Homo sapiens: one gene and its partners. The protein of the gene in region 4 purifies or fractionates together with the protein of the main gene of each other region. This does not show direct contact. Each region holds a gene or a part of one and is shown on either strand. Other genes may lie near its edges.

Evidence for each region. Proteins that work in one complex are often made in the same cells at the same time.
Region 1: the proteins of IQCB1 (region 4) and EXOC1 purify together in Homo sapiens (affinity purification with mass spectrometry; 4 studies listed by BioGRID and IntAct, with this or other methods). This does not show direct contact.
Region 2: the proteins of IQCB1 (region 4) and BOLA2 purify together in Homo sapiens (affinity purification with mass spectrometry, with the first as the bait; one large-scale study listed by BioGRID). This does not show direct contact.
Region 3: the proteins of IQCB1 (region 4) and PSMB5 purify together in Homo sapiens (affinity purification with mass spectrometry; one large-scale study listed by BioGRID and IntAct). This does not show direct contact.

What each region holds. Positions count from the first base shown.
Region 1 is NC_000004.12:55,869,640-55,874,914, reverse strand, and holds part of EXOC1 (exocyst complex component 1), read right to left. Parts: intron 4,238-5,275; coding exon 4,010-4,237; intron 3,815-4,009; coding exon 3,682-3,814; intron 3,067-3,681; coding exon 2,957-3,066; intron 2,161-2,956; coding exon of another isoform or gene 2,107-2,160; intron 1-2,106.
Region 2 is NC_000016.10:29,452,326-29,456,677, reverse strand, and holds BOLA2 (bolA-like protein 2), read left to right. Parts: upstream 1-2,424; coding exon 2,425-2,487; exon of another isoform or gene 2,488-2,564; coding exon 2,565-2,662; intron 2,663-2,945; coding exon 2,946-3,045; 3' UTR 3,046-3,085; downstream 3,086-4,352. Other genes in the region: SLX1B (structure-specific endonuclease subunit SLX1), read right to left, coding at 793-1,134, 1,229-1,280, 1,748-1,935; BOLA2-SMG1P6 protein, read left to right, coding at 2,227-2,487, 2,603-2,662. UniProt on the Homo sapiens protein: Acts as a cytosolic iron-sulfur (Fe-S) cluster assembly factor that facilitates [2Fe-2S] cluster insertion into a subset of cytosolic proteins. Acts together with the monothiol glutaredoxin GLRX3.
Region 3 is NC_000014.9:23,031,334-23,037,216, forward strand, and holds the start of PSMB5 (proteasome subunit beta type-5), read right to left. Parts: upstream 3,568-5,883; 5' UTR 3,549-3,567; coding exon 3,351-3,548; intron 2,342-3,350; coding exon 2,035-2,341; intron 1-2,034. UniProt on the Homo sapiens protein: Component of the 20S core proteasome complex involved in the proteolytic degradation of most intracellular proteins. This complex plays numerous essential roles within the cell by associating with different regulatory particles.
Region 4 is NC_000003.12:121,792,505-121,797,779, forward strand, and holds part of IQCB1 (IQ calmodulin-binding motif-containing protein 1), read right to left. Parts: intron 4,724-5,275; coding exon 4,614-4,723; intron 3,063-4,613; coding exon 2,953-3,062; intron 1-2,952. UniProt on the Homo sapiens protein: Involved in ciliogenesis. The function in an early step in cilia formation depends on its association with CEP290/NPHP6.

The DNA of each region.
Region 1 (5,275 bases), on a different chromosome or scaffold from region 4:
AAGGACATATTCTTTATGCAAATATTTCCTCAATTTCATTAGCCTTAATTTGACTGTTTTCAATATCATAATCCTAATTAGTGTAAACTGACCAGATTCTCATTCTTGATCTTTCTAGATACAGAAATCCCTAGTAAATGTAAAAATTATGGGCAAGAGCCTATAATTTCAGGGGAAGTTGAGTGTGTAAGATCTGAAAGATCTAAAAGAAGCTAACTACTCTTTATGTAACATTACTCTCATATTATATTACAGTGATTATTATATTAAAATACACTTCAAGTTTCACTTAAGTATAGATAACACAGAAGTATTAATAGGAAAGTTGCATTACAGATAGCATGCTCTGGATCAGTCATTCCCAAATGCAAGATGTTTTTCCTGGCCTATAGCAATAAGAAAAAGTACAATGAAAGAAGTGAGTCCTTCATAAGGGTAAATGTATTAATTTTTAAAATCGGAAAGGAAATTCTTATTCTTTTAGTGCCAAAATGTCATTTTTAAAATGAAAAGATAATGAAAGTGGATAATAGTATTTCTTTTTAAAGGTCTTTATTTGGTAAAATAAAAAAATTGGTGATTTGGTCAGTCTCCGAATTTTATTTCTTTTAATTTTACTAATTTGTGAATTTTAAAAAGACTGAGAATCAATGCTTTGAAATTACTGTTATATTGTGAATAGATTATTTTCACTGGATTCTTCAGTACAATATTTGTAAATGTTGTAACTATACATTTGCTATAAACTGTATTGCATGGACTCGTTCAAGTCCTACCTTATCTGCAATTCCTTCCATATCTCACTCCTTAAATTCTCAATAAACTCACTTTTGATTAAACCTTTTTAGCACTTACAGTCCACAGTTCTACAATTAGCAATTTATTACATACATTGCTAATGTACATTAGTCTTAACTCCTTACAAAGAGTAAGTACATTAGTTTTAATTCCTTCTTACAAGCATCTTGAGGGTAGGAACTATTGCTTATTCTTATATATGGTAGACAGTGAGTACATAATAAGCATACAATGAAAATTCTGTGATTGCCAAAGAGGTGTACCATATTATTTTAATCAATTTTCCCAGCTTGTCTCCCTACCAGGAATAGAAATACCCATGTTTCTCAACAATTTTGCTAGGTGACCTGATGCACTGAATGCAACACTAAGAAAATCTTTCTTATGTGTGGGATATCTTCTTCCACCGTTTTTGGCACACCCCAGGTTGTCGCAGCGTTCTGATTTTTAACATGCATCACTCACATGTAATAACACATATCAGCTTTTCAGAAATGGGAAGCATTCATTTTAAACGAGGCCATTAGTTTACAAGGCAAGAAGCAAAATCATAAATAACTGCATGTTACAACAAACAGTTAAGGGTACAGAAAAGACTATTGTTTACTGGCTGGTATTTTCAATACTATCTAACAAATGTGGATAACATAATTGTCAACAGTGTCATTTTTAAAAACTAAGGAATTGTATAGAAATAGATGTTATTGAAGTAAGTACCTAACAAAAACATGAATTAGTATTTCCTATGTGACATTTAAGCTTACTTTTTTCTCGACACTTTTCAGTCAAGTGGAATGTTAAGGGAATCTCTCTGATTCCCCCCTACCGTGCTTTTAGTTAGGTGGTCTTCCTTTACACTCCCACAGTCTCGCTGTCATAACATTTATCCCTCTTGAGTATATTATTTGTTTGTCTCGCTTCCCTAGACTGTGAACTACTAGAGGACAGGATTGGTCTCTCATTTATCCCAAGTTAATGTCTGGTATGTACCTCAATCACCTGGCAATACTAAATAAATGAAGGATTAATATTACTACTATTACTAAATGAAGGAGTAATATTACTATTTATTACTAAATGGAGTGAAAAAATGACAGAAAGAAAAGCAAGCAGAATGAGATTAAATGCTTTTTTGGCCAAAATAGTCTCTACTATGGGACATTTAAAAACTGCTACGAATGTGGTTAACAGGTAGCTTAAATCAGTAAGTTATAATCTGTAAAGATTCGGCTGCTGTTAAGTTTAGCAAACTTTATAGAAAAAAAAAAACAGAATCAGAGAAGCTTGAGCCAAATTTGATGTACTCACAGGAACCGAAAGAAAGTAGGACCTGTTATAGAGTTGAAGGAGGGCCTGAGTAAACTAATTGGAAATAAAATATAGTAAATACAATTGTTTTAGAATATTGCAAAGTGAAAATAAAGTAAAAATCCATTGTTTTCAGGCAGTATTTCTTGATGAACGAGATATTCCCCCAATTTTTTTTCATTCTATAACTCTAATAAAATAAAAGGGACTTTTAAAAGAGATGAAAAAATAAGAAACCTAATTTATTGTATTAGATATTAAAATGGCTTTTATTCAAATCCCTCAAAGGTACTCTTAATATTATTAATAACAATATTATTACCACACTCTTAATTATAACATCCTTTTCCATATAAAAATATAGGTAAAGCATTTATATGAAGATTAGATCAACTGAAATTTGCAGTTGAGCTAGTCATTTTCTTAACAATTATACTATGTACTAAGTACATAGAACTTACAAAACATTTAAAACACTGAATCAAGTCCTGAGTCTCACCTCAAAATACTGAAAAATAAAACAGGTCCAATAGTAAATATCTAACAAGTTTGGACTTACTTTATAAATAAAAATATCTAAGTAGTATATGCAATTCATATGCATAGTTATTTGATTTCTAGAATCAGAGAGCATCAGCTGAAAGGAACTAGACTGTCTACCAAAAGAGGCAGCTGAGGCCCAAAGTACATCTATGAGCAAAGAGGCTCCTATTTCAAAATCTTAAAATCAAATATGTGAAGGAATTGACTGCAACCCCAATTAAACATATTAACATTTTTGTGGAAATGTAAGGTTAATACATAAATAAGCTATAGGAACATGCTCGTTTTAATAATAAAATAAAATTACCTGTTGAACAAAAACATTGTTGAGGTGACTGGCCAGTCTCCGGGCAAAAAGCTCTCGCAAATCACTGAATCGCTGCTGTTGCTGTTTGACTGCCAGAAGCAAGTCATGGCCTGACACAGAACGACATTTTGTGACCAGTTTAATGGGTAAAAAGATTTCCTTGATGTTTAATGGAACATTAAACGTATCTAACGTTTTGAAGAACCCAAAAGTTTTATGGGTGTATTCATTTACATGATAAAAGTTAAGCAGGAGAAAAATGGGATTTCACAGTAGTTCTCAAAGTGTGGTCTTGCCTCACCATCGCCTGGGAACTGTTAGAAATGTGGATTCTAAAATCTCAGCCCAGATCTGCTGAATCTGGGACTGGGGCCAGGCAATCTATGTTTTTAACAAGACCTCTAGGGATTCTGACGGACACTCAAGTTTTGAAATAATTGCTCTCGTCTAACCAAAGCACCTACTTTCTGCTGGGTTCTGTGGATAGTACTAAATAAAGATCATGGTGTTGACTATAGTCATTGAGGACAATTAGAAGGAGGAACTGAAGTAAAAAAGTTCCTAGTATCAATAGAAATAAGTTGGGAAATCAGTGAAACTTGAATAGCTAATAATGTAACCCTTAAACCACTTGTCTCATGTATTTCTTGTCAAAACCTTTATAACAAGTTACAGGCTTAGTCTCACATTCTTGGTCACATTTTTGTCATTTCTAATGAACATACCTGGTCGAAGAGCTACATTCATGCACTGCAGAAGGGCATCAGCAGCATTGGTGCAGGCCTCAATGCCTCTGGAAGAAGCAAGATCTCCTTCCTGAAGGGCCTTTATATGACCTTTGGCCAAGTCCATGTGGTTCTAGAATATATGCAAACACACCATTTGCATGTGTAATTTTGGGAAATTTACAGGCAAGATGCTATTCAGTCCTATCATTAGGTCTTTGGAATTATTTTAAATCCTGTTCTCACAAGGAAATTAAAAAATGTTTACAAATGGGTTTTATATATCATCACTAGTTTTTTTTTGTTGGTAATTTATGATCATACTTACCACAAGGAACTCTATCTCAGATAGGAGTTTTACATTATTAGTGTTACTAAGATGAATTAGGTGGTTGCTTTCAGAGATCTGATCCATTTGTTCTTTTACACTTTGGAGCATTTCCTCATAACTGCTCAGTTTCAATTCAATCTGATCTACCTCCTTTAGAGCCTCATCTAGCAATTTCATCAGGATGTTGACTTGTTTTTCAGATGCCATGATTGACTGGATGTTAGCCTACAAAGTTAAAGACCAAAACAAACAAACAAACAAACAAACAAACAAAAAACATACTTGTTATTTAGATGTGTAAAAGAATAAAGGTGAAATGTTGCTAAATTTCCTTGAAAGTAGCATAACAAAAATTGATATATACCTACACATCTACTTCAGTTTATCACTTTATGTTCTTCCATGTTTTACACAGTATTTCATGCAGGTACACTTGCCTCTAAATCAATGTTAGGGACCATGCCTTAGGATTTTATATTTCCACAGACTGCACAAGTAAGGTTCCAGAATGCACAAGTAAGGTGCCAGAAAGTATCACTGGTAATGGCACATTCTCATTTCTATACATTTAGGAGGCATTAGGCCATGTTATCTCTAACATTTCCTCCAATTCTACCAGCTAGAAATTTTCTTAACACCTATGTGAAACCCTAAATAAAAGCATAATCACCTATGTGATATCTTAGTTGAGAAAGCAGCAGTGGTATACCAGACTCTGAAGGATATATGAAACTAATTTATAACTGTAGTATGATGGGAACTAGTAACAGGATGTAGAAGAGCATACGGCCGATAGCTCCTTCTATCATCTTTTTTCTTTTCTCTTTCAACTGTTTTTTTTTTCTTCCCCAGGCAAAGCAGTAACAAACCACCATCCCCTTATCACTATTTTCTAAATGATTCTGACTATTGATTCTGAATTCCCTGAAATAAGGAAACTGCCAAATCCAAAATTAAACTGCAAAGCAATATGCTGACTTGGAACATATATACCATATTAATTAGAACAAAAAATATAAATCACTAAGCCATATTAAGAAGGCAAGTAACATGGTACGATGAAAAACCTGGACCAGAAATTTAAAGGATATCATTGTACAGCTGACGCTGTGGTTTCACACGTTATTTACATACTATCCACAGTAAATAAAATGTAAGTGCAATACGACTTTAAGAGTCAGAAGGGTTCAGAAGCCACTGACATCTCTTAAGTAACAGAGCTGGGGTTTGAATCTGCCCAGGATTTCTTCCTTAACATCTTAA
Region 2 (4,352 bases), on a different chromosome or scaffold from region 4:
CTGGGAGGCCGAGGCGGGCAGATCACTTGAGGTCAGGAGTTTGAGACCAGCCTGCCCAACATGGCGAACCCCATCCCTACTAAAAACACAAACATTCGGCAGGTGTGGTGGCACACTTGGGAGGTTGAGATAGGAGAATCGCTTGAACCCAGGAGGCGGAGCTTCCAGTGAGCTGAGATCACTGCACTCCAGCCTCCGCAACAGAGCAAGACTCTGTCTAAAAAAAAAAAAAGGGCCGGGCGCGGTGGCTCATGCCTGTAATCCCAGCACTTTGGGAGGCTGAGGCGGGCGGATCACGAGGCTAGGACATCGAGACCATCCTGGCTAACACGGTGAAACCCCGTCTCTACTAAAAATACAAAAAATTAACCAGGCGTGGTGGCGGGCGCCTGTAGTCCCAGCTACTCGGGAGGCTGAGGCAGGAGAATGGCGTGAACCCAGGAGGCGGAGCTTGCAGTGAGCAGAGATCGCGCCACTGCACTCTAGCCTGGGCGACAGAGCTAGACTCCATCTCAAAAAAAAAAAAAAAAAAAAGAGGGTCATGCTCTGTCGACCACACTGGAGTGCAGCGGAGTACTGATGGCCTAGGGAAGAACCTTTTCTTTGAAGGGGAAATGGTGAAGGCCCTGAGCAGGGCCTGCTTTGCTCAGGAATGGCCGTAAGTCCTATAGCATCAGCATCTTAGAGATGGGGATAGGGTGGCCAAAGCGTGTCAGTGGGTTTCCCTCAAGAAAGAGCTGGATCCGAAGTCGTCTGGACTCTAGAGCCATCCATTCCTCGGGGGGACCTCACCTGGATGGTCTGGGCGCACAGGGAGCAGCAGGCCCCTGGATCCCCCTGGTCTGGCTCAGGCTCCGCGTCATCAAAGGGACCTGCGCGGCGCCTTGGGGCCGGGGCCTGGGGCGGTGGAGGCCCGAAGGCCAGAGGCACGTGCGGCGGCGGCGGGAGGCAGAGGTCCTGGCGGAGGTCTGGGCGCACCCAGCGCAGCGTGAGCGGGAGGCGAGCCCAGGGCGGTGCGCGCAGCATGTGCGCCAGCACGCGCAGGTGGAAAGCGAAGGCTGTCTCTCCTCGCAGGCGAGGCCCCACGTGCGCCAGGCGGCGCGAGGCGTGCGGGTGCTGCCAAGCCCACTCAAACTGCGGGCGGCGTACAGGGGCATCAGGGCGGCTCGGAGCGAGGGGCGGAACCCAAGCCCTCACCCGGCCGCCGCTGCCCGGTCTCCTTCCTTACCCGAAGGGCGGCCACGGAGGACGGGAAGCCGTGCACGACGAGCACCATCTCCCTGAGGAGGAGAACCGTGATGTCCCTGTCGCAGCCCAGCGCCTCAGCCGCGGGTCCCCTCCAATCCCACCCGAGAGCGGGGTCCTCATTCCCGGCTTCAGCCGAGAAGTGCAGCCCTCTGCACCTGCCCACCTCAGGCCCTGCCTCCAGCCCAGGTACCCACCTGTCCCACCTCCTCTCTCTCCTGCATTCCACCCGACCCCAGCGTGCCCACCAAGAGCCCTATGCTGGAACCCAGCCTGGATCATCACCCCCGCCCCAGCTAGCTCCTTCCCTGAGTTCCGCCGCGGAGATGCCCCGGGCACCGCCTCCCCGTCACGCTCCTCCCCTGCGACAGGCCCCGTCCCCACCACAGACGCCCCGCCTCTGTCACAGTCCTGGCCGGTCCTTCTCAACAGGCCTGTGCCCCGCGGGGTCCGCCTCCTCTGGGACGCCTTCCTCCCGGCACAGAAGGCCTCCCCCTCTCACCAGGGCCCTCGCCCGCTGGTCCGCCAGGCCCCGCCTTTTTTGCGGCCCCCATTGTGCTGCTGGACCCGACGAGCAGTGTTGACAGTGAACCCCACGTAGACGCGGCCCCGGTACCGGGGGTTCAGGCAGTAGAGCAGGTAGACGCCGAAAAAGCGCCCTGGCCTCGCCGCGACCCCCGCGGGACCCATCGGGCCTTGGGGTTCGGGAACCACAGCAGGGGGTTGATTGCCGTGACCTAGGGTCCAGGGGAGGGCTGGATCGCTAGGGCTGCAGGGTGCTTGCTTCGGAACAAGCTCTCGGGGACTATCCGGAGGCAGCCTGCAGGAAGCCGTAGCGCCGGTACGTGCCCCTCTCCTGTCTGGAGGCGGGTGTAGAAGTCCGACCGCGGAAGCCAGACTGCTGTCCAGTCGGCGAGCGCGTACCATTCAGCATCGGCTCCGCCCGAGTCCCACCTTCCTCAGGCTCTGATTGGCTGACACATGGCAAGCGCGAAAAGCCTGGACCGCTGGAAAGCCCGGCTGCTTGAGGGCGGAAGTACTGCGTTGACGTACGCCTTAGTAAGGGCGGAAGTGAGTTTTCCAGCGGAAGTGGCTCCTGTAAGGCAGCAAGGTAGCGTGGCCGGCGCCCGAGCTGGGGTTGTGTCCCTGCTGGGCTGCCGTTCCAGCTGGACTGCCGCCATGGAACTCAGCGCCGAATACCTCCGCGAGAAGCTGCAGCGGGACCTGGAGGCGGAGCATGTGGTGAGTTGAGCCGCCGGACAAGGGGAAAAGAGCTCGGGGGGCGGGTTCGGCACCATTCATATTCTTCCGCTCGGTAGGAGGTGGAGGACACGACCCTCAACCGTTGCTCCTGTAGCTTCCGAGTCCTGGTGGTGTCGGCCAAGTTCGAGGGGAAACCGCTGCTTCAGAGACACAGGTAAGGCCCTGGGAGCACCTTGCCTAGCTCCTGTACCACAACCCCAGCCACTCCCCCTACCCCTGCAACCTGACTCCCGCACTCCCCCTGGCGTGGCTCAGGGACCTTGAGGATCCCGCCTTCGTGACCCCTGCTTCGAGTATTTCGATGTAGACCCTCTCTCCAAGTACGTGTTCCCACGGCCTGGGGACTACAACCTTGGGGACACCAGTCTCTTGGGTCACCCTAGCCTCGGGGTGTGCGATCACCGCTGGCCTTTTCCTAACCCCATCTCTCGCCCCAGGCTGGTGAACGCGTGCCTAGCAGAAGAGCTCCCGCACATCCATGCCTTTGAACAGAAAACCCTGACCCCAGACCAGTGGGCACGTGAGCGACAGAAATGAGGGACTGGGATCTGCACAGCCATTAAATTATAAATCTGGACCAGCTTCTGTGTCGATGTGTGTGTGGGAGGGGTGCTGAGGCCGAGTCTAGGACCTGGCCTCTCCCTGCCCTGCCTCCGTCCATTGTTTTACCTTGGACACGTCTCTGTCCCCATCTAGGCCTCTATCCCTGCTTGTAAAATGAAAGTTCTACCGTAAAAGTCCCTTCCAGGGTCTACCGAGAAAGCCTTCTCTCTGCAACTCCGTTTAGACATCTAGGAGTCTGTACTGCCACCACCTACCCACCTCCTAGAGAGCTCAGGGTTCCTCCTCTCTGCTAGCCTTCAAGATGCAGAGATGAGAAAGTGATCGGGGTTTCAGGGCCCTGACCAGTTGAACAAACCTCTCCCTGACATTACCGCAGTATCAGAGGCACCATATAGAATTCCACATATTCCTTGCAGGTTCCCCCCGGCCTTCTCAGGCCCAAGAGGGAGTGGTGCCCAGGTAGGGGCTCATCAACTCCTGGAATGCTGATGTTTTCAGACCCACTGGAGAAGGTTCCAGTGGCCCCATAGCCCTGGGCTTAATGTGTCTACAGCTGCCCCCGGAGGACCATGGAGGTTTTAAGAATAGTGGGTGTGGGACGGGGATAGGGGTGAGATTAGAGTAGGAATATAAGGCTGACCTGAGTCAGAAAATTGGGGCAGGTGATGCCCCTGTATCAGTCTTCATAACAGGTTAGTAGGGTTGCTAGGACCTTGTTTGTTTTATTTGTTTTTTGTTGTTTGAGACAGGGTCTTGCTCTGTCGCCCAGGCTGGAGTGCCGTGGCGCCATCTCAGCTCATTGCAACCTCTGCCTCCCAGGTTCAAAAGATTCTTGTGCTTCAGCCTCCTGAGTAGCTGGGATTACAGGGGTGCACCACCATGCCCGGCTAATTTTTGTACTTTTAGTAGAGACAGGGTTTCACCATGTTGGCCAGGCCAGTCTCAAACTCCTGGCCTCAAGTGATCTGCCCGCCTTGGTCTCCTAAAGTGCTGGAATTTTAGGCGTGAGCCATTGTACCTGGCCCAGATTGCTAGGACTTTGAACAGAGGTCCCTGAGACCTAGGGAGGGAGCCCAAATAACCTAGTTGGGGCCAGGGCTCGTTGAGAGTGAGAAATTGCAAGTTTCAGCCATCACACACTCTTTTCCTGCGTTTTTTTGTTTGTTTGTTTGTTTGTTTTGAGACAGAGTCTTGGCTCTGTTGCCCAGGCTGGAGTGCAGTAGCATGATCTTGGCTCACTACAACTTCCCCCTCCCGGGTTCAAGCGATTCTCCTGCCTC
Region 3 (5,883 bases), on a different chromosome or scaffold from region 4:
ATCTCAATTTCCAAAGTAACAAAGTGAGCTCCTCTCTCACATCCGGTTTTTAATTTCCTTTCATCCTCCATTGGGTAGTAAGTGGATACTCCCTACAGCCCTTTCTATTCTCGTTTGAAAGCAAGTGAAAAAGTGGTAGGTACCCTATAATTGTTCTATAAGATAACTAGGTATTTAGTAAGCAGGTAAATGAATGAAGCAAAATCAAAAGGAGGAAAGAATAATTATTTTTAAGCATATGGAAGGGAAAATTAGAAGGTGACTAGCTATACTCCAACTTTACTAAACGGGCAATTCAAAACTGGCTGATGAGGAAATGACATTAAATACAAAGTTGAACTGTCTGGCAAGTTTCTTAAATGCTGGAAAGGAAAAACAGGCTAAGGAACTTATTTTCAGAGATGATAGAACCGGACCTAGCATGATTGTAAGGGTGATTATAACCAGCAAAGAAATAAAAGAAATGAGCCCAGGACTAGGCGCAATGGCTCACTCCTGTAATCTCAACACTTTGGCAGGCTGAGGTGGGCAGATCACCTGAGGTCAGGAGTTCAAGACCAGCCTGGCCAACATGGTGAAACCCTGTCTCTACTAAAAATACAAAAATTAGACGCGCATGGTGGCATATGCCTGTAGTCTCAGCTACATGGAAGGTTGAGGCAGGAGAATCACTTGAACCTGGGAGGCAGAGATTGCAGTGAGCTGAGATCCCGCCGCTGCACTCCAGTCGGGGCGACAGAGCGAGACTCCATCCCCACCCCCTCAAAAAAGAGAGGAGCCCAAAAGGCCCCTTCTAGGCCAAAGACTCTCTAAAGAAAAAAAGAGAAGAGGCCGGGTGCAGCGGCTCACGCCTTTAATCCTGGCACTTTGGGAGGCTGAGGCGGGTGAATCACCTGAGGTCAGGATTTCGAGACCAGCCTGGCCAACATGGTGAAACCCCATCTCTACTAAAAATATAAAATTAGCTGGGCATGCTGGTGGGCGCTTGTAATCCCAGGTACTTGGGAGACTGCGGCAGGAGAATCACTTGAACCCAGGAGGCAGAGGTTGTAGTGAGCTGAAACAATGCCATTACACGCCAGACTGGACGATCGGAGTGAAACTTTGCATCTCAAAAAAAGAAAAAAAGAAAAAAACAGAAGAGAAATGACTAACTTTTGAGGGACAACCATATATTAGAGTCCAATACAGTAGCCACAAGCCACACATGGTCAATGAACACTTGAAATAGCACTACTGCCACATGTGGGATTCAACGAATTCTTTTTTTTGTTTTTTTTTTTGAGACAGAGTCTCGCTCTGTTGCCCAGGCTGGAGTGCAGTGGCACCATCTCGACTCACTGCAAGCTCCGCCTCCTGGGTTCACACTATTCTCCTGCCTCAGCCTCCTGAGTAGCTGGGACTACAGGCGCCTGCCACCACGCCTGGCTAATTTTTTGTATTTTTGGTAGAGACGGGGTTTCACCTTGTTAGCCAGGATGGTCTCGATCTCCTGACCTCGTGATCCACTGTCTCAGCCTCCCAAAGTGCTGGGATTACAGGAGTGAGCCACCACGCCCGGCCTTCAACGAATTCTTAAATTCTTTTTTTTGAGACAGAGTCTCACTCTGTCGCCCAGGCTGGAGTGCAGTGGCGCGATCTCTGCTCACTGCAACATCCACCTCCTGGGTTCAAGCAATTCTCATGCCTCAGCCTCCTGAGCAGCTGGTATTACAGGCGCCCGCCACCACGCCGGGCTAATTTTTGTATTTTTAGTAGAGATGGGGTTTCGCCATGTTGGCCAGGCTGGTCTTGAATTCCTGAACCTGGGGGCGGAGGCTGCAGTGAGCTGAGATCATGCCACTGCACTCCAGCCTGAGCGACAGAATGAGACACAGTCTAAAAAAACAGGAAAAAAAAAAAGAGAGAAGGAAGGGCTAAGGACCTAATTACACTTCTTCAGCATTGACACCAAGCCCTTTAATTCATCTGTCCATCCAACCCCTCCTCACTGTAGTGTCAGCCCAAGGATCATGTGGTTGCAGCTTAACTCACCAGGGCCTCTCTTATCCCAGCCACAGATCATGGTGCCCATGGACAGCCCCATGCCTTTGTACTGATACACCATGTTGGCAAGCAGTTTGGAGGCAGCTGCTACAGAGATGCGTTCCTTATTTCGAAGCTCATAGATTCGACATTGCCGAGCCAACAGCCGTTCCCAGAAGCTGCAATCCGCTGCGCCCCCAGCCATGGTGCCTAGCAGGTATGGGTTGATCTCTATCACCTTCTTCACCGTCTGGGAGGCAATGTAAGCACCCGCTGTAGCCCTGGAGTCAGCTGCAACTATGACTCCATGGCGGAACTGTTAAGATCAGAGGAAAACACAAAACAGGCCACATAAGACCACAAAAACACTCCTACATACTTCTTTTTGCATCAATCCAAACCCAGCACATCTCTTTCTCCGTCCTTTTATACTTCACAGTATACTTCTATACTTCACCATATATTAATGTCACCCGAGCTTCACATCAATCCCTTGACATGGATATAACCCATATTAAATTCATTTTATAGGATGGGCGTGGTGGCTCACTCCTGTAACCCAGGCATTTTGGGAGACCAAGGCGGGAGGACCGCTTGAGGCCAGGTGCTGGAGACCAGCCTGGGCAACACAGGGAGATCCATCTCTACAAAAAGTAAAAAAACTTAGCCTGTCGTGGTGGTGTGTGCCTATAGTGTCAGCTACTCTGGAGGCTGAGGCGCTGGAGCCACTGCACTCCAGCCTGAGCGACAGCGAAAAGCCCTGTTTCAAAAAAAAAAAAAAAACAAATCATTTTATAGATGAGGAAACAGGTTCAATGAAATCAAATGATTTCTCAATCTAGAGCTAGTTATTGCAGAGCTGGGCAAGGAACCCCAAATGTCTGATTCTTAGTACAATGCTTACCCTCACCACGCTTCCCCTTCATGCCAGTTTCAGTTACCCCTGCCTTGAGGGGCCGCCCAGTTTCCAAAACTTTGGTAAACGTTTACAATAGCCTTCCCTCGGCCAAGATTCATTGTTGTTGCGGCCTTTCCCAGCTAGAAGATCCTGAACAGCAGCAACCTGGGGTCGCCTAGGAATCAACCCAAGAGGCCTCACCTTCCTCCCCCGACTTACCCCCGGCCCCACCGCCACCCTTTCCAACCAGAGCAAAGACAGGGGCCTCCTGGGCCAATGAGACAGCAAAACTGCTGCGGTCCGAACGAGAGGACCCAGCCTCCGCCTGGGTTGGTGGCCAAGGCCACCGCAAACTCCGGTCAGGCTGGGAGGCCAGGCAAGTCGCGGGCGTTCAGTACTCAGCCTGGCAAGGGGGCTGGCTCCACACCTTGAAGGCCAGGGTGGTTGTTCCATGAAGCATTTCGATTCCTGGCTCTTCTGGGACACCCCAGCCTGGCGCGGCCAGGCTCAGACCATCACTGAGACTCCCTGGACCTAGATCCAGCAGATCTGCACGACCCCCAAGTCCGAAAAACCCGCGCTGGTTCACCGGTAGCGGTCTCTCCAACACGCTGGCAAGCGCCATGTCTAGTGTGGGCAGAAAGAACTAATTCTGAGAACGCCTAGCAAAGATAGGCCGGGCAACGCCTCGCCGTCACAGCTTCACTTCCTATTAAATCTATTCCGGAATGGAGCCATTTTGACTGCTGGCAAGCACGCCTCCAAAAAGAAGAGCCAGATGCGAAAGACCATTTTCACTGAAGGGGGTCGGGGAAATAGATGGCTTCACTAACCTTAAATTCTAAAAGGACGTACCTGCCATCTTGGCTTTGGTCATGCAAGTAGTCCTGGATCAGAATAACCTCAAAATCACAGGAAGTGACTGAAAACGTCCATGTTGCGTAAGGGAAGTGAGGTCGGCCATCTTTGAGAAGGGCGTGACTGGTTGAAAATCGGTTCTGAACCCTTAGCGGTGAGTCCTCCCACTCCAGCCTGGTGTCCAAGCAACAGGTTACATCGCTGCTGCTTCAGCACCTTGTTAACGCGCCTGAGGTTGCCATCTTGTTTAAGGGCACCTTCTAAAATTGGGTAAAATAATGATCCATTCTGAGGCCATTTCCCTATATTAGTTAAACCACAGCAATTAGTGGTAAAACAACGCAACAAAATAAAAGTGCTATACCTCTTGTTGTCAGTCGCCATACAGCAACCCTTCTTTAACAGTAACCGGTTATTAATATCCAATATTCGTTCTCTTGACTCCTACCTTCTGGTGGAAATTCGAATAAGTAATGAATTGCCTAAAAGGCAGATGGAAGAAGAAAAAGCAAAGGGTCCAGTTAATCCACAAACTAGATTCTCAGTTCAGACCTGAATAAGTGTCAGTAGTAATTTACCATCTCAGAGACGGGAGGACGGTTGAGACTGCATAAATATGTACCAAGAGATTCTCTAACTTCAACTTGCTAAGATGATGCCTTTTATTCAGGAACATACTATATTTCATTGCCTCTTCCTCCCTCCACCCACCTTCATTTTTCAAATCTTTTGGGAACTATAACAAACCGGGAAGTGTGCATATGTATGAAATGTTGCCTCCTGCTTTATGGTTCTATGAAGTCAGTCTCTGGCCTTCCTTGTTGGATTCTAGCAGCAACATCTATCAACACCGAAATTCCACTTTCCTCTGATGCCCAGTTCGGCCCCATCTTTCCCCCAGCAGACTCTGCATATGCTGTATTGTTTTTGTTTGTTTGTTTGTTTGTTTTTTGAGACCAAGTCTTGCTGTGTCCCCCAGGCTGGAACACAGTGGCACGATCTCTGCTCACTGCAACCTCTGCTTCCCAGGTTCAAGCGATTCTCCTGCCTCAGCCTCCCGAGTAGCTGGGATTACAGGCGCCTGCCTCCACAACAGGCTAATTTGTGTGTGTGTGTGTGTGTGTGTGTGTGTGTGTGTGTGTGTGTGTGTTTAGTAGAGACGGGGTTTCACCGTGTTAGCCAGGATGGTCTTGATCTCCTGACCTCGTGATCCACCCACCTCGGCCTCCCAAAGTGCTGGGATTACAGGCATGAGCCACCGTGCCCGGCCTCACGCCTGGCTAATTTTTGTATTTTTAGTAGAGATGGGGTTTCACCATATTGGCCACGCTGGTCTCAAACTCTTGACCTCAGGTGATCCGCTTGTTAGCCAGGATGGTCTTGATCTCCTGACCTCGTGATCCACCCACCTCGGCCTCCCAAAGTGCTGGGATTACAGGCATGAGCCACCGTGCCCGGCCTCACGCCTGGCTAATTTTTGTATTTTTAGTAGAGATGGGGTTTCACCATATTGGCCACGCTGGTCTCAAACTCTTGACCTCAGGTGATCCGCTTGCCCCGGCCTCCCAAAGTGCTGGGATTACAGGTGTGAACCACTGCGCCTGGCCTATGCTGTATTTTTAATGCTGAAATTGGCAACCCTTTCCAAGCCCAATCATCAGAATAGAATTAAACAGGAGATCTTTGTGTTTCACACTTGGATGATGTGGAAAATGCGGAGTGCGTCTGTTTACTGAGCATATATTATTTTGCAGTCACCCCTGCAGTGCAACTAGTCTTTCTGCCTCCTTCCAGTGGTTTTTCACTCTGCCACTGATAGCATGTGTACCTCTCTTAAGGCCCTTTTACATTTTACCTGGTTAGAAATTACATTTATCTCCTACCGGATTGTGAGCTTTTAAATACAAGTACTTACTATTCATTTCTGTACCCACTGTATGCTTAATACATATTTGCCAAATGAACACCTGAAAGAATGACAGCAGTGGTCTTCTAGTCAAAAAGGCTTGAAGTCCTTGCTTATCTTTTACAGCTTTTTTCTTTCCTTCATATCCAGTTAGTTGCATGGTCCTGTTGATTATTTCCACTTCAGTGTTTCTCAC
Region 4 (5,275 bases):
CAAAAAAATTAGCCGGGCGTGATGGCGGGCGCCTGTAGTCCCAGCTACTCGGGAGGCTGAGGCAGGAGAATGGTGTGAACCCGGGAGGCGGAGCTTGCAGTGAGCCGAGATTGCGCCACTGCACTCCCGCCTGGGCCACAGAGCAAGACTCCGTCTCAAAAAAAAAAAAAAAAAAAAAAGTGAGATTTGGTGATTTAAATAGGGACTAAATTGTAAACAGGTGTGCTTATTGGATTCATATGTTTTACTTTCATATCTGAAAACATTTATTAGGAACTGAAGTGATTTTGAATGTAATTCCCCCATTTATTATTAAATAACATCGAGTTATTTTGTTCAGAGTTTCTCTAATCACTCAAAAATCAAACAATTATTCTTCCAACTGGTTTCTTTGTAAGAATTAGTAGGCACTGGACCACCTGGCATCTGTACTACACTTCTGAAGATGAAATGACTGATCAGATGTCATATTCTGAAATAAGTAAATTCCATGATTTACATTTAATCAATCTGAATTTTTACCATTAAAGTGGGAGTTGACCAAATTTTCTGCTGCCAAGACACTGTGCCTCAGAGGGAGAGAGAGAAAAAAGATGCTATCTGCATTTAAGAAGCTCAGTTTCAAGATGAAATCAACAAATGTAATTAAAACACTTAAAAATCAGCACTATGATAGAGGTAGGTAAATTGTGAGGTTTCTCTAAGATAACTAGAGCAGCTGTTAGCCGCTTCAGAAAACCTTGCTGAATAAGAGTACTTAAGAGACAAAGTTTCTGAATACGAGAAATGACTAAATAAAAAAGAAACCACTATGAAAGTGCATTAGCAAGGGCGTGACTATAAAAGAATGCCTCTTGCTGAATCTAAAGAACACTAATCAACCTGGACCCATAAGTGTGACCAGTGGGCAGTCTCTCTCCCAAAACCATGGGAAGGGGAAATTACTGAGATAAGTCCTGAGCACAAAAAGACAGAAATAACCTTTGAAAAAAAACCAAGCTACAAAGGAAGCAAGAGACATTTGCATGAACTGTTACAACTAATAGAAGAGCGAAGGTGCTGAACTGGAGAAAACTGAAAATTAAAAAATTAAATAGAATCCAACAGGTTAGAACCGCATTTCAGTATATTCTGGAACCTCAAATGCAAAAATACTGGAAAGGCAACAAACACAAAATGTGAGACTTAAATAATTTTTGCTTCACAGCTTATCTTTTTAATGGAAGTATTTATAACTCTTCTGGTTACATAAAGAAAGCAATGGAATTTCTATTTTAAAATAATGGAATATTAGATTCCATAGATACACTTCTAAGTAGAAAAAAATCTGTAATCCTGGGCTACTTTTAAATAGAGATTTTAATATTGAAAGAGAGAGTATATGAGCAAATTTGGGAACTCTTGTGGGACTAAACATTAATGCTCTGAATCCATGTATAAGGGTACCCTTAAATTTAAGATGACAGGTAACTAAGGATGATAGCAGGTGGAATCCATAAGTAATACCTACTCTATCTGAATTCACCACAGAGGCAATACCAAGAGCACCTCAGATGCTTTGGGTAGAAAAATATACACTGTGACTCAAAAAGTACTCAATATTTCCCAAATTTATCTAACCACAGAAATGCTTTTAAAAAAAAAACAGCTTGTAAGATAGGCAATAAACTTTGAGTAATAATAGATGGATAATACTTGCTTCTCATTAGTACTACCTATTTAATGCATCTATTTGTTTACCTAGATTTGTAAATTTTCAAGGACAGAAAATGTGCCATATGCATTTTTCCTTCTATCATTTTTTAAGTGCCAGATAATATGCTAAAAACTTTGTATTATCTCAAATTTTACATTATCTTGATCATACAAGTGTATAAACTATTATTCTCATTTTATAGATTGGAAGTTTGAGGCTGAGAGAGGTGGGGGATTGTCCAAGTTCACTCAACCAGTAAGCTGCTCAAGTGAGATACAAACTCGAATCTGTTAAATGCCTAGTACATATATCATATACTAGGCATTTGATATATATTTAAAAATTAATTCTTTTCTTTGCTACCAACAATATTCATGCCCAATAATATTTAAAATCCATCTTTAATTCTTCCCTGAAGAAAACGTTCATCAATTAATAGGATACCCACTAAGAGACACAGTTAGCTAGAGTGATTTCAATGTCTTCAACTCTGTGACTACATAGTATTTTGAACCCCAGAGCTATTTTTAAATGTTTTTATAACTGAGAAATGCATCTGCAGTTATTAAAAGAATAGTTTCAGTTTTCTTTAAAGAATTAACTTCTGTAAAATGCCAGTTTCATTTTAGCAAACTAAAGCTTGGCTTTAAGTTAGGCTGCATGAAAAAGTCACCTCTGAAACAGATCTTCTTTACCATAAATTACCTAGAAGCTAAGTTATTTTTTCTTGTTCTGTGACCTTGGAGGATCTGGATTGGTTAAGTCATTGCAGAAAGTGGGCTATGTCTTCAGTATTTCCTTTTCAGTCTACTTGAAATAAATGCCGAACTATATCATAATTCAATGAAGATATCCATCCATGCCATATTTATTCAGGAAAATCAGGTTAACAGACTTAAACTCTTATACGCATACATGTTATTGTTATAATTATACACACGAAATTATGATAACTGTTGGTTTAGAGGGTTTAATAATATAACTATCATTGGCTCCCTTTGTAGGCTTGGCCCCTCCCCAAATATCTTATTAAGTGGATAGGATTGCATATTTGACACATCAGATTCCTGTCTTACATCCTTTGCTTTGAAAGTGCATCTGGTTACTGGAGTGTTGGTACCCAGAAACGTATGGAAAAAAAATGAAAAGATAACAAGAAACATACTAGGAAATTAAAAAAAAATCACCTAAATTTCAATTCAACTGTACTCTAGTAAGATTCTATGATCATCAATCCCCTCACCAAATTTTTTTACCTGAAACTCCTCTGCAAAGCAATCACAGCAGATGGAAGCTTCTTTAATCTCTTTCTTGTCTGAAAACCCTTCCAATAGGCTTGAATCAAGCATGCTGCTTGATGTAGTTTCTGAAATGCCGAAAATAATTTAGAGATATCTCTAGGAAGGTCTTTAAAAAAAAAAAAAAGTTTACCTCTTAAAGTATCAGGTTAGGGCAAATATTAATCTCTAGCTCTAACAAGATGGGTAAGAATATTAAACCTTACCTCCCAAAGGAGGTATGTTAGGCTTGGTAAGGCAATTTCTAGAACATACTCAAGATATAGTCTAGTTAGCTCCAAATTCTCCCAGAATAATCTCACTTCCATTTCCTTTTCAAAGATTTCATAGTCCGCCTGACCTTTCATAATCTTTTTTGAGCTAACATGTTAATGTTTTTACTTAATAGGCAATCAACCTAGTTAGGTTCAAACTATAAGCTCTGTTGACCATTGTGGATGGTTGCTCGAATCTCTGTTTAGTTCTGTAAGCTTTTGATATGCTATTCTCCTGATAGACCATTGGGCTTAAAAGGTCAGTGAGCTGTCTGAGTTCTTGACTGAATTCTGTCCCAGTCTCCTGTTTACTTAATAGACTTCTGAGTCCTCAAATGGAATGGCAAAGGGTACAACTATTAATAATAAAATATAGTTTTATGATTTTGTTACCTAATCAATATGAATTTGAGCATATGCATAGTTTTGAGATTAATCTAAACTCACGATGGTTCATATATACAGAAAAAAGGAATTCCCTTCTTCTGCACTCTTCCTTCCAGCCTCCCCCAACCCATTCTCCTGCCTTACTGGACTTATTTTCATGGTTTCTGCTTGTATTTTTAAATTTATTGTCTTTTTGGTTTTGGATTTTGGATATACAATGTCCCCTTTTCCTTTTAAATTAAAAAATATCTTTAGTCATTTTAGATGTTTTCCATATTTAAGTCTTTATCTGGAAATCAGAAAGCAATATGCCTCTTCCTGTTGAATGGGCTATTTAGAGCCATCATTTTGAGTATGCTAGAGGAAGTATGATGAAATAATCAATAACTTGCTGCCTCAAATTTCTAAATAATTTTATTAATACCATTTCTTACACAAAGGAAAAGGCATTATTGTTGTATCTCAAAGAACAAGAAGGGTAGCCATAGGTAACCATAAATACAGTTTGCTACAATTAGAGATTTTTTTTGGAAAAACAGTTTTAAAAGTTTAAATAGCTTATAGATAAAAGAAGATAAACATCAGAGATGGGGCTTTCATGAGAAATGATGAATGAAACTGATGTGGCAGTATTTATAAACAGATGTAAATGGGAGATTGAAATTATGTTTTCCAGCAGATTGAATGGCGGAGAGATACAATTTTGTAACATTATATTTTAAAGATGGGGTTTTGCTATTTTGACCAGGCTGGGGTGCAGTGGCTACTCATGGGTGTGATCATAGGGCAGTCTCCAATTCCTGGACTCAAGCAATCCTCCTGCCTCAACCTCCTGAGTAAAAAATTTAAAGATATTTCTGTTTTGGGGGTATTTTGCTTGAAATCTTAAGAGAAAGAAAGTGAGGAACATTTAAGGAAAACTAAGGTTTAATATAGTCAGCAAATATCATGCAATTTTTTTTTTTTGTAACTTAATACCTGCTCTTCTACTTCCTGATAGACCATTGGGCTTAAAAGGCCAACAAGCTGTCTAAGTTCTTGACTGAATTCAGTCCCAGTTTCCTGTTTACTTAGTAGACGTCTGAGTCCTGAAATGGAATAGCAAAAGGTACAACTATTATTATAATAATAAAATATGATTTTGTTATCTAATCAGTATTAATTTGAAGCTAAAAAGTCTGGCTTAAAAACAAATGAAAACAAGATTAATCATATGATTTTTCTTTTTCCTTTTCTCAGAGAATTCCAGGTTGAAATCTTTAAGATATTCCTCCCTCCTGAGAATTCTTACGTGCTCAATTGTGGTATCTGATAAAAAAAAAAAAATCTGTCTAGACAATCTCTTTAATAAAAAAAAAAAAAAAGGAGTGGGATGGAATCACTGTGGTAAATCAAAAAGTAGAGATAAATTTTTTTTATTTGAACAAAAATACTTAAATGGAGACATTTTAAAGATAAATTACTACAGACACATATTCAGTAAATGCTTGCCCTGTGGAAGCACTTATGCAGATTATTATTAGTCATTATTAGTTGAAAAAGATTATTAAATATAAACATATGGTAACATATATAATTTGGGGCAAATCAATAGGTTCCTGGGAAAACATTATAGGTGAAGTGCTACAACACTAGGATAG